Linked DNA regions of Homo sapiens. The protein of the gene in region 2 interacts with the protein of the main gene of each other region in a pairwise test. Each region holds a gene or a part of one and is shown on either strand. Other genes may lie near its edges.

Region 1 (3,818 bases), on a different chromosome or scaffold from region 2:
GTTACACTCCCCCCAACAATCTAATGTTCAACTAAATCTGTCTCATATTTCTAAAGTTTCAGTCATTTTCTTCACATCTAGAAGTAAAACGTCCTTATGTTCTCTTGCATTGCTGAAAGTCTCTCAGAAAATCTCCGCAATTCTTCTCACTAGTGATCAAATCCATTCACTCACTAGAAATGGATGGAGCCTTCTCAGTTTTCCACCGCTAGAGCACACAGCTGAGTATATCAAATTTGTCTCCTAAGGACAATTTCCAGTGCAGAGATGTGCCCAAACTCCCTACTGCAGTCAATTCTTTCCATTTCAAAGTAAATTATTTTGTCTCTATATCCAAATACAAACTTAAGGAACTTTATATTTAAACCAACATCCATTGTATTTGAAAAACATAATAAGGCCAGGCACGGTGGCTCACACCTATAATCCCAGCACTTTGGGAGGCCGAGGTAGGCAGATCACCTGAAGTCAGGAGTTCGAGACCAGCCTGGCCAACATGGCAAAAACCCGTCTCTAATAAAAATGAACAAACATTAGCCGGGCGTGGTAATGGGCACCTGTAATCCCAGCTACTCAGGAGGCTGAGGCAAGAGAATCGCCTAAACCAGGGAGGTGCAGTTTGCAGTGAGCAGAAATCCCACCACTGCACTCCAGCCTGGGCAACAGAGTGAGACTCTGTCTCAAAAAACAACCAAAACATATATATTAGAAATAAGTAGTAACTAACCAGCAGTAACTGACCAACACTTTTTGACACCACAGATAAATGAAAAGCAAAGAAAATTTCCTATTTCAAATGGATGACTTCTGTCCATAATTTCTCACCTAAAGAAAGTGAGAAAGTAGCCATTTCTCGAAGTGCCAGAGGCTTAATCCATGATTTCTCACACCAACCCTATGAGAGAGATCTTTACGGCCCATATCTCGCATATCCCACTGCTGACAGGACAGGTCCACTGCGTGGCCGCAGTCTTCCTGCCAGGACTGGGTCACCTTCTCAATTCCTCCACCTCAGCAGTATCATCACTCTTCTCATGACTGAGGTCAAAAATGCTAGAATCCTCTTTGCCTCTAGCCTGTCATTCTTTATGGCCTTTACTTTCTACCTGTCATGACATCCTCTGGCTCTCAGGACGACTGTGTGATCGTCACTTTGCTGCTCTGTGGCTGAGGCTGTGCCCTGTGGCTTTATCCCGCCCACCTGCCTGGACGCGGATGTGCAGGGACCAGGGCCGGCACCCTCAGCATTGGGCGGTGCTGGAGCTGGCTCCTTCTGTGCATCTACCTTTTCCCTAAACTCGGCTGACCCCAGCGCTCTCATGGGCACCCACCTGGACAATCCCTGGCCTTGCAGCTCTTGGACCTCCTCATCTTGGTGGCCTTCTCCCCATTTCCTCAGCCACACATTCCCAACCACCCCCAAGACCCATGGTCAGTGGCAGGCCTGTTTTCCTCCGGGACCCAACAAGGTGACATGGAGCGGTGGGCACTGAAGCAGGCCCAAGAGCTCCTAACGGGCAGCTGCTGTTCAGTTACAAGGCACTGTCACCACCCAGGACTTGAGGAAGGCCAGCTCGGCATTTTATCAGGCATCCACCTCTCAAGCCAGAAACCCAAAGTCTTCCCTATCTATGAATCACCTATTTGAAAATCTTCTATTCTCCTCAAACCCGATGACCTTCTCTCTCTGCTCACCTTCTCCCCCACCATCTTAACTGTCTGCTGTCTAACATCTAAAGGGCATGTTTGCCTCTATCTTACTCTGGATGCCAGCCAACCGCTGTCATCATCCCAAGAACCGTGTACTACTAATACTCGCTGCTTAGGTGGAGGGGAGGGGAGACAAAGATTTTGTCTGTCCCACAGCATTTCTAAACACTACGTAAACCACTGCTATTATCATACCCAATAAAATGATCATTGTCAACATCACCTTATACCTACGCCATACTGAATTTCCCCACTTCATCAACATCAAGCCTTTCCACTGAAAGTGGATGTGGAGAATACTGGATCCGGCTTCAGGTTGTTCCTATATGCTACAGAGCCATTTTTCTGGGACTTTGAGCTGTCATTATGAAATGAAAGTGTCCAGAACAAGGTGAAGCGGCAGACGGGGTGTCACCATCAGATGGAACAGCCCAGCTGGCTCTCAATGGTGCGGCTCCTCAGAGCCTGGCCCCAGACCCTCCTCTTGCTCTGCCCCACCTACTACACATTCTCACATCCGCCTCCACAGCTTCAGTCAGCCTTGTTTTCTCTGGTTCCACCACGTAGCAGACAGCCCCTGCATGGATCAGATACCTCCAACCCAACACATCTGAAAAGAAACTTAGGTTCTTCAAACCTGCAGCTTTCCAGTGTTCCTTATCTCTGAAACAGCATCATCTTCCTTCACTCGCTCAAGCCAGAAAGCTGGATCCTCCCATTCATTTTTTTCTGTCTCAAACTCCAACTCTATGTCCTCTTAAGGGGCCTCTCTGCTTCACTCTTGCCCCTCAAAGATCCACTGTTTACACAGAGTGCATCTCACCCCAACTCAAAAGCCCAGTGGCTTCCTTCCAAGAAAGACCATACTCCTCACTATGGCCCTATATGGCAAGGCCCCTTTTAAATCCTTCCTAGAACTCATTCACCTTATGAAGTTCAAATTTCATTAACTTTCTTTTCTTAGAACTCAGCAAATTCATGCCATTTGGGTCTTCCTTTTGCCTGGGAACTCTGTGCCCTCAGTTCTTCACATGGCCTCTCCTTGTCATTCAACCCTGATCTAAGTCACCTCCTGCCCGAGGTCCTTCTTGACCATCTCGTCTAAAATAGCCTCCTTCCCTTCACCTGCTATTACGGGACCCTGATTATTTTCTTTGAAACACCTTTCACCATCAACAGTCCTTTTGTTCATATTTCTCCACTTACTGTATGTCTTCTCTACCTAAATTAGTTTTCTTAGTCACAATTTTATCTCCAGTGCCCAGAAAAATGCAGAGTGGCCAATATACCACCTCAACTACCTTCTTTCTGTCTTAAATAGAAATATATGTACTTAAAACTTTTAAGGCCATGCGTGGTGGCTCACACCTGTAATCCCAGCATTCTGGGAGGCCGAGGTGGGTGGATCACTAGAGATCAAGAGTTCAAAACCAGGCTGGCCAACATGGTGAAACTCTGTCTCTACTAAAAATACAAAAAAAAAAAAAAAAATTAGCCAGGCATGGTGGCACATGCCTGTGATTCCAGCTACTCGGGAGGCTGAGGCAGGAGAATCATTTGAACCCGGGAGGTGGAGGTTGCAGTGCGCAGAGATCATGCAACTGCACTCCAGCCTGGGCGACAGAGTGAGACTCCATCTCAAAAAAAAAAAAAAAAACAAAAACAAAACAAAAAACAACCAGCAACAAAACTTAAGATCCACTCTGTATCAATAAGCTCCATGCTATATAAACTGTAACCTGAAATCAAGCCTTCCTCAACAAATGCATGAATTTGTGTTATTTATTTACTACCATGAAGTTCATTATAAGCAAATCAGGTACAGCTGGTAAACTTCATTATTCTCTTTGCTGCCATTGCTAATTTTAAACTAAGTAAGAGTGGAAACCCTTCAACGGATAGTACTCCATCACTGACATCCTGGTTCTACTCAGCTGCTTTAAATCTTCAACTTAAAATACGCTGTTACCCTTTTTCAATGACCCTGAAATATACATATATACACATACACACACACACACACACACACACACACACACAAGTAAACAGGTTCTCACACAAATACTGCTTGTAAGTTATTTGGTCTGAAAAAGCAAAACCAATAAACT
Region 2 (3,818 bases):
CCCAGGCTTGAATACAATGGCGCAATCTCAGCTCACTGTAACCTCCGCCTCCCGGATTCAAGTGATTCTCTTGCGTCAGCCTCCCGAGTAGCTGCAATTACAAGTGTGTACCACCATGCCCAGCTAATTTTTTGTATTTTTAGTAGAGACAGGGTTTCACCATGTTGGCCAGGCTGGTCTCAAACTCCCGACCTCAAGTGATCTGCCCACCTCAGCCTCCCAGAGGTTTGGGATTCCAGGCATGACCCACCGCGCCTGGCCCTCAAAGTTCCATCTTCTAACCCAGTGGTCTCCCAAGTAGTCTTCCCCTAAGGGAAGCGCAGAATGATCCACTGAGGGTGGAAGTAAATATCAGAACTTTTATCCATGTTAATGTTTACAAAAACATGACGTTCCGTTAACGGTTACTATATGGACTGACTACGAGACATTCCCTGGGCCATGTTAAGTGGTCATGTGTTGAAGACAGGACACAGCAGGTATCCTGATGGGGTTGTGGGAAAGTTTCCATCACACAGAGAGGGCCTCAGCACCACTCTTCATTCATTCAGTCGTTTTCACTTTACTGCAACCTAATGCCTGAATGAGGTTATTGAGGTTCTAAAGCTTAAACGCTGAGGCCTCAAGCATTTAGAGTGGGGAGGACAAAGACGCAGTGGAGGAGACGAGGACTTCCAGGGTGAAGCTGGTGGACAGGAGGAAAACTACGAGAAGATGACAACGTAGAAGCTGAGCAAAGAAAGGAGAAAGTGGTCAGCTGGATCGAATGCTGCAAGCTTTCAGATGAAGACTGGATTTGACAGGGTGGGACTTTAGCAGAGTAGTTTCATTGGAGGAGGGAGGAAAACAAAAGCCCAATAGGAGGCGTTTAAGATAGAGTAGGAGGTGAAGAAGCAGAGATAGTGAGTCATGAGAATTCTTCCAAGGAGGCTGCTAAAAAGGGGGCACAAAAAGTAGAGTAGTTGGAAGGGTATGTGGAATCAAGCAGCTTTTTTTAAAATATGGGAGATATCACATATTTAAATGCTGATTGAAATAATCCAGTAAAGAGGAGAAATTTGATAACAAGATAATGTGTAATTGTAAACATAAAGTGTTACAGGAAGTCAGGGACCCCGAACAGAGGGACCAGCTGAAGCCACGGCAGAAGAACATAAACTGTGAAGATTTCATGGACATTTATTAGTTCCCCAAATTAATACTTTTATAATTTCTTACACCTGTCTTTACTGCAATCTCTGGACATAAATTGTGAAGATTTCATGGACATTTATCACTTCCCCAATCAATACTGTTATAATTTCCTATGCCTGTCTTTAATCTCTTAATCCTGTCATCTTTGTAAGCTGAGGATGTATGTTGCCTCAGGACCCTGTGATGATTGAGTTATCCGTACAAACTGTAAAACATGTGTCTTTGAACAATATGAAATCTGGGCATCCTAAAAAAGGAAGAGGATAACAGCAATTTTCAGGGAACAAGGGAGATAACCATAATGTCTGACTGCCTGCGCGACTGGGCAGAAGAGAGTCATATTTCTCTTCTTGCAGAAAGCGAATAGGAGAAATATCACTGAATTCTTTTCCCAGCAAGGAATAACCCTGGGAAAGGAATGCATTCCCAGGGGGAGGTCTCTAAAATGGCCGCTCTGGGAGTGTCTGTCTTATGCAGTTGAAGATAAGGGATGAAATACACCCTGGTCTCCTGCAGCACCCTCAGGCTTGCTAGGATTAGGAAATTCCAGTCTGGCAAATTCTAGTCAAACTGGTTGTCTGCTCTCGTACCCTGTTTCCTGTTAAGATGTTTATCAATGACAGTGCGTGCCCAGCGGGACATGGAACCTCATCAGTAATTCTAATTTTGCCCTGGCCTTGTGATCTTGCTCTGCCATTTGCATTGTGATACCGTATTGCCTTTTGAAGCATGTGATCTCTGTGACCCACTCCCTATTTGTACACTCCCTCCCCTTTTGAAATCCCTAATAAAAACTTGCTGGTTTTGCAGCTCAAGGGGCACCACGGAACCTGTCAACAAGTGATGTCACCCCCAGAGGCCCAGCTGTAAAATTTCTCTTTGTACTCTTTCTCTTTATTTCTCAGACTGGCTGACACTTAGGGAAAATAGAAAAGAACCTATGTTGAAATACTGGGGGCTGGTTCCCCCGATAATAAAGTCTTTGAAAACTGTGCCCAATAGGAAGAGGACCAGTTTTTCCTTGTAACAAGAGATATGGCAGACTACAGGGTATGATGCAGATTGGCAGACAGGTAGGTAGGTAGATAGATCTGGTGGTAGGAAGATGAAGAAAGAAATTCTGTTATTAACCAGCTTCTATTTTCATAGTTAAAAAAAAAGAAAAATAAAATCAGATAAGAACAAGGAAAGAGAGACGGGATACTAAAAGTTCAAGGAAAACAAGGTTGTGAGCTGCTTCAGAGAGCAGGAGAGAGAATTCCTGAGGGAAATAGAGCAGAGCTGCCGGAGGTGCTAAGCACCACACAACGTTTGTAAACACATATTTGAAGTGTGACCAGTTAGCAGGGGGATACATTTTTCTCCAGCCACACTGTGTTACTCATGTTCAGGTGAAGAGCAGGCAGAGAATAACCAGGGCTGGGATTTTTCCAGAGTACTGAGGAGAAAAAGGCAAGGGAGATAGATGAGGGCGTCCATTATAGAGTGCAGCAGTGGACCTCATGGATGGAATCTAAGCTAGTTAAGAATGAGATGAATCTAAATCAACAACACTTCTATTTAATAGCAATTCAAAAACCCTTTTGCTCTCAATTAAAAATTATTAATATTTTAGATATTTAATTTTTAAACATCTTGCCAACTGTGATGGCTTCTTCAGATCACTAAATGTCACCAACATTCACCTTGTTACACAGGCCAAAAGTCTGATGGCCTGTGACTTGATGACTTTTTCACAGTACAACAGCAAAAGCCGTTCTCCTTTGAAAATATACTCTGGACCTAACTACTTCTCAGCACCACTACGACCCCAGGGCTTGTGCTTGCACCATTCCATTGCTCATCCTTTGTTATCTACTTTTCCACTCAGAAGCCAAAGAACTTCCAATTTAAATCAGCTGAAGCCCTTCCTTTCAACCATTCAACGCCTCTTGGTCACACCTGGAAAAAAAATCCACATCCTGGCCATGGCCCGTAAGATCCCACATGACCCAGCTCCCGGGTTGCTCTCTGATCCACTCTCCACCTCTCTGCCATGCCCAGCCACACTGGCCTCTGTCACACTCTTCAGTCTTGCCAAGCACACTGGCATCTCAGGACCTTTGTGCCTGCTGTCCCTGGAAAAGTCTCTCCTCAAAAGGTTCATGCAATTTGCTCTCATTTCATTCAGATCTTGGCTCAAATGTCAATTCCTCACAGAAACCTTCCCTGACCATCCATCTAAAAACACCAATATGCCAGGACCTTTTCTCCTTTCTTGGCTTCACTTTTCTTCAAAGCACTTTTCATTACCTCCTATTACAATCCTATTTTTCTGTCTTCCCCAAGAACGTAATGTCCACGAGGGATTTTCTGTTTTGTTCACCATTGTGTCCCAGGTGCCTACAATAGTGCATTTCACATGTGGTAAGCATCAATAAATATTTATTCAATAAATGAGTCGTTTTTTAGTCTTCTTTTTGTGCATTTAAAAAATATATTTACCCAGTAGTACAAGAATATAATTTATAAATAAAAAATATACTAGGGAGACACACTCAAACATTTTTTACCGAAGGGGTATATAGTAAAAAGGAAAGAAAATTCTGACAATCACAGATGTAACCAATCAACAAGCCAGCACA

The links.
Region 1: the proteins of SCCPDH (region 2) and PAXIP1 interact in a two-hybrid assay, tested with the Homo sapiens proteins (one large-scale study listed by BioGRID).

What each region holds. Positions count from the first base shown.
Region 1 is NC_000007.14:154,971,807-154,975,624, forward strand, and holds part of PAXIP1 (PAX-interacting protein 1), read right to left. Parts: intron 3,100-3,818; exon of another isoform or gene 1-3,099.
Region 2 is NC_000001.11:246,727,220-246,731,037, reverse strand, and holds part of SCCPDH (saccharopine dehydrogenase-like oxidoreductase), read right to left. Parts: intron 1-3,818.